Linked DNA regions of Homo sapiens. The protein of the gene in region 1 interacts with the protein of each later gene in a pairwise test. Each region holds a gene or a part of one and is shown in the gene's direction. Other genes may lie near its edges.

Region 1 (3,819 bases):
AGCCCGGTCTGCCTGGAATTCTGATGTCCAAGACCGCAGAAGAAAAGTCTATCACAGTTTCCAAGACAGATCAAGTCACCTTCTGAAATTGTTCTCACTGGGCTCTGGCCAATTGGATGATGCACTCCAACACTGAGGGCAAAATTCCCCATCTAGTCCATTCACACTCAAACACGAATTGCCTCTGGAAACACCCTCACAGACACATCCGAATTAATATTTTATCAGGTTTCTAGGTATTCCTTAATTCTGCCAAGTTGACACCTAAAATTAAGTTCACAAGTCCACCACTTGTCAGCCTAGTGTTCATATACATCTCCTCAAACTATATGTTATTTCCAAATAAAAGCAGTAACAAGGTGATGGTTCCACCTAACATGATGCAGGCCAATGTGATGAGACCATCCTGCATGCAAGTGAAATGCCAACCCCTTTTCCAGAATTCAGCTTTCAGGATTTCAACATTCAGAATTTTAATCTTTCAGGATTGTAATTTTGGGGATTTTGGACCTTAGCAATTTAGATCCTCATCAAACTAGTTGATTTTGAATCCCTACTTTTCAACATCAGTGTTATTCATTATTCTCCAGAGGAAATTATCAAAAATCTTTTAAAAACTAGAATATAAGTCCTATGCTTTATCAAAATTATGAATAATTAAAATGCAGAGTCAATACATTCATTTTTTGTATTTTTCAAACTAAGTGAATTAATATTAACATTTCATGAAACAGATACACATATAGCTCAACTCCAAACTGTCCATGAATTTATCTAATAAACAGAGAAAATGCTGCTTATAAGCAAGTCACAATTCTGATCTTACAGTTAGCTGAGCTATTAAGAAATTGTTGGAATAAGAACTGGGATAATAAAATGTTTTTGTTCAAATAAATTACCATGAATATACAATTGTATGATTAATTGCAAAAAAGGATTGTCAAAGGGAAATCCGATTAAAATAATTCAACTGATCTAAGTTGCATTCCATTAACATCATTTCCCTGATTAAACTCTTCAATATTTCCCAATGAGCTGCAGGCATACATATGTAATATTACATATAATCACCTTTTTGCTTAAATAAAATTATATTCTGTAATAATCTATGTCTCACTATGATTATGTCATCTTCTAACTATATAACTTTCCACAGCAATGCCAGGACACAAATATCTACCTGTTTTACTAGCCGCATAATATTCCATTGTAAGAGTATTCCATAATATATTTAACCAATCCCTTGTCAATGAATAGTTTTAATATATCTCGGGATTTTTTTGCTATAACAACATTTCTGAGTGAACATACTTGAGTAGACCTCTTTGTACATTTTTATGACTCTATCTGAAAGACACATTCCTAAATGTGGCATTCCTGAGACAAGTGTTTCTTAATACATTTTTATAGATACAGATTTAAAGTTCTATAGATATAGATACATTATCCTTCGTGGTGATTATCCCGCTAGTCCCACCAAAAGTATTCAACACTACCATTAATACTACGGATGGAAAATTGTTTTTCACTGTCTGGATTTGCATCTTTAAACTGTGGGGTTGAGTATCATTTCATATGTTTAAAAGTCATTAATGTCTAATTTTTCTTTGATTGAACTACTACATCAATGTTTTAGATTATTCATCTTTCATCTTTCCTTTTTTGCCAAAACTCTATTATATTAAAGACATTGGATAATTTTCTATCGTGCAATTTACAAATATTGTTTCTCAATTGTTATTTTGACTTTTTTGCTCTATGCAAAAATTTTAAAGGAATATGCAACAGTTACATATATTTTCCTTTCTGGCTTCTGAATTTTGGGTCTTATTATATTAAGGCCAAATCCCATTATTTGGGTTTTGTCAAATAAAATACTGGAAAACAATTGACTTTCCAAAGCAGAAAAAATTATTTTTTTAAATGTTATTTGTGTTATGAAGTTGCTTACCAAATTATTTTCTACATGGATTTCAAGGGCAAACCACTGCCCATTTCTTTGTAATTAATAGCATCCAAACTAATCAATATTCCCAAATTTTAATTTCTCAGCAATGCTTATTTTCTGACAGCTCACAGCAATTTTTTCAAAAAGAGGTGGAACTTGGGCTAGTTTCTGCTTCAGATGCTGTTTCTCCAGAAATGTGTCATATCTCTTTGATGAATTCTTAACTTTCTTTTCTAAATCCCCAATATACATTTTCCATTATGAAAGATCACTCAATTGTCATCAGACTTCAATGATATTATCTCAAAAATGATGATTATGTGTTTACTTACACACAACAGGATAGGGAAACAAGAAGTGCATTCAGGTTTAATAATTGCTTCTTCATCAACCCATGTCTGCCACCAGGCAGAGACCTTGTTTTAATCATCATTGAACGTCCAGAACACCTAATTAAGAGAAGCTGCTCAATAGATATGTGAGCACAAAGTGAAAGAATGAATGACTGAACAAACTGGGATTTCATCTTTCTGAGCCTTAGTTCCTTCTACAAAACAAAAAGTTTGGCAGAAAGAATAGTAAGATAATAGATTTGATAGTGGTTTGAAAAACAAAACATTCAGAAAAGTGGTATTTTCTCCCATAATTTTGTCTTCTTATTGATGTATTAATTTGTATGTCTATTCCAGAAATCTCTTTATGCTTTGGAAAGTCTTATGCATAATTTTGGCTTTTTCAGTTCAATATGCATTTAATAAGCAAATATTCTTGTGTAAGATATGGAATATTGGAAATGCTGATTATGTAATACTGATTACAAGTATGAAATAAAATAGAGGCAAGAGGAAAATAATTCTCATCTAGGGAGAGTATACTGGCTATTAAGTATTATTATATTATCTTTATTTTCACCATCCTCAGTGTTATTGTGAAAAAGGCTTAGAGCTTCCATGAGGAAAGGCACTGTTAACTATAAAAGTCACACATTCAATATTATACATTCTATGCTTTCTTCTATAATTGTGTCCTCTCACTAATTTACTAATTTTTATGTCTATTCCAGGAATCCCTTGATGTTTTAGAAAGTGTTGTTTGTAATTTTGGTTTATTTAATTCAATTTATCAGTATTATGCTAAGTTTCATGGATTGATGAGATATATAGGTAGATAGGTAGGTAGATAGATACTCATATCTGGATAAGGACATATTTAAAACATTACTGGACTTCAAGTTCATTGCCAGCCTGAAAGGTCCTTTTGAATCCTCCATTTGAAGGTCTTGCTTTTTACATGGGGAATTGAGGCAGGTAGACACAGTAATCATGCAGGGGAAGGGAGATTTGGGAGAAAATAATGTGGTTTAAAAGGAGAAACAACATTATGTATTTTAAACCAATGTTTATATTATGTTTGTTAATTTTATTCTATTTCCTTGCAGGTTTAAATGTTTATTTGCTACTTGGCTACTGATTAGAGAACGCAAAATGAATAACTCAACAAACTCCTCTAACAATAGCCTGGCTCTTACAAGTCCTTATAAGACATTTGAAGTGGTGTTTATTGTCCTGGTGGCTGGATCCCTCAGTTTGGTGACCATTATCGGGAACATCCTAGTCATGGTTTCCATTAAAGTCAACCGCCACCTCCAGACCGTCAACAATTACTTTTTATTCAGCTTGGCCTGTGCTGACCTTATCATAGGTGTTTTCTCCATGAACTTGTACACCCTCTACACTGTGATTGGTTACTGGCCTTTGGGACCTGTGGTGTGTGACCTTTGGCTAGCCCTGGACTATGTGGTCAGCAATGCCTCAGTTATGAATCTGCTCATCATCAGCTTTGACAGGTACTTCTGTGTCACAAAACCTCTG
Region 2 (3,819 bases), on another chromosome or scaffold:
ACGTGTGTGCATGTGTACACATGTGAATCTGTGGGTATGTATCTGAGTGTGTGTGCACATGTGAATGTGTGTGGCTCTGAGGGGTACTGCACAGATGTGAGGAAGCAGGGCCACTTCCCCAGGAACCCTGACTGCCCCCTCTTCCTGCCCCGGGTGGGGAGGCCTCAGCTGCATAAAGAGGCCGGGAGCCTCACCAGCGACTGCTGCTGGTCCCACACCTGCCGCTGCTGCCTCCCAGGCCAGGTACCGGGAGGGGGCCAGAGGCGGAGGGAGCTAAGGGGTCTCCTGCCTCAGCGACCCAGGAGCAGGTACTGGCCCTGGGGCAACCGCCAGCAGAGGGTGGGCAGGGGAGCTGCAGGAGCTCTCCTTCTTTGGAGCACAGGCCCTGCTGCACAGCCCTTTCCTGGGCACTTGCCCACCTTGGGCTTGGCTGGTCTGCGGCATAGCTGTCTCTGAGGGTCGCAGGTGCTGAGTGTGGCCTCACATCACTGGGTCTATAACCTCGCTGGACACCGTCCCTCCTGGACGGACGACTGGCTTCATCCTGACCCCAGCTAGAGATGGTCTGGGTTGAGACCATGGAGGACCAGGAACCTAGACTGGGCGGGCGGAGCCCTGGGACCCTGGGCACCTGAGAAGGGCAGCGGGACCAGCCGGGGGCTGGAGGGAGGATGGAGGATTTTGTGGAGGTGGAGGGACCCCGACGCCCCTGTCCAGGGTGTGGAGGGACCCCGACGCCCCTGTCCAGGGTGTGGAGGGAGGCAGAGCAGGGCCTCTGGGGGCCGAGGGGCTATGGGGATTGTGGACTGGTGGCACTTTGGGGTCTGGGAGCTGATGGTGGTGCAGGCACGGGGGGCTGTGAAGGACTGAGGGCTGATGGGGCTGCAGGGGCTTGGGGGCTAGGGAGCTGGAGGGGCCAGGAGGGATTGAGTGGCTAGGCAGGCTGGGGAGACCCTTTGGATGCTGAAACTCTGTGGGACCCTCCCCAACAACCTGGATGCGGCTGGGGCTGGGTTGGTGGCCATGGGTGCAGTGGACACTGAGACCACCAGTCCCCACACACTTGAGTGGTGCTTGCCTCAGTGTCCCCATCTGCCTCATGAAGGCAACTCACCCAGCTGGGGCCCTGCATCTGCACGAGCAGGGGCCGGATCAGGTGGGGGCTTCCACTTCCGTTTAAGGCGGTAAGCTCCACGTCATTGACTGTGTAAGCAGAGAGGGGCCAGCTGCGAGGCAAGCCTGGAGCCCCGGCTCTGAGCGCCGCGGGCTCCTAAGTGCAGGCCCCTGGCTGACCCCTACCCCGCCCCACAGGACCCGCCCGCCCGCCCCTATGACCAACATGAGCTGGAGCTTCCTGACGCGGCTGCTGGAGGAGATCCACAACCACTCCACCTTCGTGGGCAAGGTGTGGCTCACGGTGCTGGTGGTCTTCCGCATCGTGCTGACGGCTGTGGGCGGCGAGGCCATCTACTCGGACGAGCAGGCCAAGTTCACTTGCAACACGCGGCAGCCAGGCTGCGACAACGTCTGCTATGACGCCTTCGCGCCCCTGTCGCACGTGCGCTTCTGGGTCTTCCAGATTGTGGTCATCTCCACGCCCTCGGTCATGTACCTGGGCTACGCCGTGCACCGCCTGGCCCGTGCGTCTGAGCAGGAGCGGCGCCGCGCCCTCCGCCGCCGCCCGGGGCCACGCCGCGCGCCCCGAGCGCACCTGCCGCCCCCGCACGCCGGCTGGCCTGAGCCCGCCGACCTGGGCGAGGAGGAGCCCATGCTGGGCCTGGGCGAGGAGGAGGAGGAGGAGGAGACGGGGGCAGCCGAGGGCGCCGGCGAGGAAGCGGAGGAGGCAGGCGCGGAGGAGGCGTGCACTAAGGCGGTCGGCGCTGACGGCAAGGCGGCAGGGACCCCGGGCCCGACCGGGCAACACGATGGGCGGAGGCGCATCCAGCGGGAGGGCCTGATGCGCGTGTACGTGGCCCAGCTGGTGGCCAGGGCAGCTTTCGAGGTGGCCTTCCTGGTGGGCCAGTACCTGCTGTACGGCTTCGAGGTGCGACCGTTCTTTCCCTGCAGCCGCCAGCCCTGCCCGCACGTGGTGGACTGCTTCGTGTCGCGCCCTACTGAAAAGACGGTCTTCCTGCTGGTTATGTACGTGGTCAGCTGCCTGTGCCTGCTGCTCAACCTCTGTGAGATGGCCCACCTGGGCTTGGGCAGCGCGCAGGACGCGGTGCGCGGCCGCCGCGGCCCCCCGGCCTCCGCCCCCGCCCCCGCGCCGCGGCCCCCGCCCTGCGCCTTCCCTGCGGCGGCCGCTGGCTTGGCCTGCCCGCCCGACTACAGCCTGGTGGTGCGGGCGGCCGAGCGCGCTCGGGCGCATGACCAGAACCTGGCAAACCTGGCCCTGCAGGCGCTGCGCGACGGGGCAGCGGCTGGGGACCGCGACCGGGACAGTTCGCCGTGCGTCGGCCTCCCTGCGGCCTCCCGGGGGCCCCCCAGAGCAGGCGCCCCCGCGTCCCGGACGGGCAGTGCTACCTCTGCGGGCACTGTCGGGGAGCAGGGCCGGCCCGGCACCCACGAGCGGCCAGGAGCCAAGCCCAGGGCTGGCTCCGAGAAGGGCAGTGCCAGCAGCAGGGACGGGAAGACCACCGTGTGGATCTGAGGGCGCTGGCTTGCGAGCTGGGCCAGGGAGGAGGAGGGTTGGGGGGCTCCGGTGGAAACCTGCGACCCCTTCTCCTCAGCCTTCTCCTTAGCCGGTGGCCTCAGGCAGACTCTGCCCAGAGGGGCAGCCAGGCTGCTCAGGGAAGGGGCTGAAAGCGGCAGAGGAGTGCCCTGGCTTGGTCACCACTGGGGCCAAGGTGGGGTGGAGAGAGGCCTAGGAGCCAGAAAGGGCCCTCTGCTGTGGTCTGAACCCCAGGGGGAGTGGGGCATTGACTCCACCCCTGTCCTGAGCTGGAATAGGTCCTCTGGGATGCCAGCTCTCCCCTTTGTGCTTCCCTGCAGCAACCCATGGAGGGCCCAGGGTGCCTGGTATGGGCATCAGTTGGTGGGGGTGCGGGGGTGCGTGTCCCCATTCCCTGCAACAGCAAATGGGGCTCCTTCTTCAGCCCTCCCCTTCCCAGCCCCAAACTGAGACAGACTGGGAGCTGGGAGCCTGGGGTGGACAGGACCATACCCTCTTTGAGCTTCTGCGATGCCGGCCTTCCGTTCCTCTGGGAGGCTTGAAGTTCTGCAAAGATGTTGATATGCCTTGCAGCTTGGACCCAATGGGTGGTGGTCAGGGCCTGGGGGCTTGGCCATGCTGGGGGAATGGGGCTCTGGGTTCCTGCCTGTGGCCTGTCTGTCCTCCTCCCTAATTCAGACCCAGCCTCAAGAGGAAAGGGAGTAAAATAAAACTAACTTGTTTATAACCTTGTGTGTGCATGTGTATGCATGTGCACGTGTGGCTATGTGTGTGACTGCATGCACATGTATGTGCATTGTGTGCATGTCTGGGTGTATGCTTATATGTGTATGCATGGGTGTGTGTGCATGGCTACCACATGGGGAGACATGGCTTAGCTCCAGGCTGGCTGGGAGAGGAGACCCCTCCCCAGGGACTGGCAGGGGAGTATGGTCACAGGCGAGCCCCTGTAGCTTGTCAGACAACACTCGGGGCCTGCTCGGTGCCAGGCAGCGTGCCGGGGGCAGGGGTGGGTGGGGCAGGGTGGAGTGCACTGATGGTGAGAAAGAAAGAAAACACTCAGAGCCTCAGGTTGGGCCGCAGCTCAGTGGATGGAGGGCGGCTGTCTCAGGCCCCGTCATGACCAGGACGTCGGCCAGAGCCTGCAG

What was found.
Region 2: the proteins of CHRM2 (region 1) and GJC2 interact in a two-hybrid assay, tested with the Homo sapiens proteins (one large-scale study listed by BioGRID and IntAct).

Annotation. Positions count from the first base shown.
Region 1 is NC_000007.14:137,011,434-137,015,252, forward strand, and holds part of CHRM2 (muscarinic acetylcholine receptor M2), read left to right. Parts: intron 1-3,386; 5' UTR 3,387-3,432; coding exon 3,433-3,819. UniProt on the Homo sapiens protein: The muscarinic acetylcholine receptor mediates various cellular responses, including inhibition of adenylate cyclase, breakdown of phosphoinositides and modulation of potassium channels through the action of G proteins.
Region 2 is NC_000001.11:228,156,429-228,160,247, forward strand, and holds the end of GJC2 (gap junction gamma-2 protein), read left to right. Parts: intron 1-1,311; 5' UTR 1,312-1,330; coding exon 1,331-2,650; 3' UTR 2,651-3,398; downstream 3,399-3,819. UniProt on the Homo sapiens protein: One gap junction consists of a cluster of closely packed pairs of transmembrane channels, the connexons, through which materials of low MW diffuse from one cell to a neighboring cell. May play a role in myelination in central and peripheral nervous systems.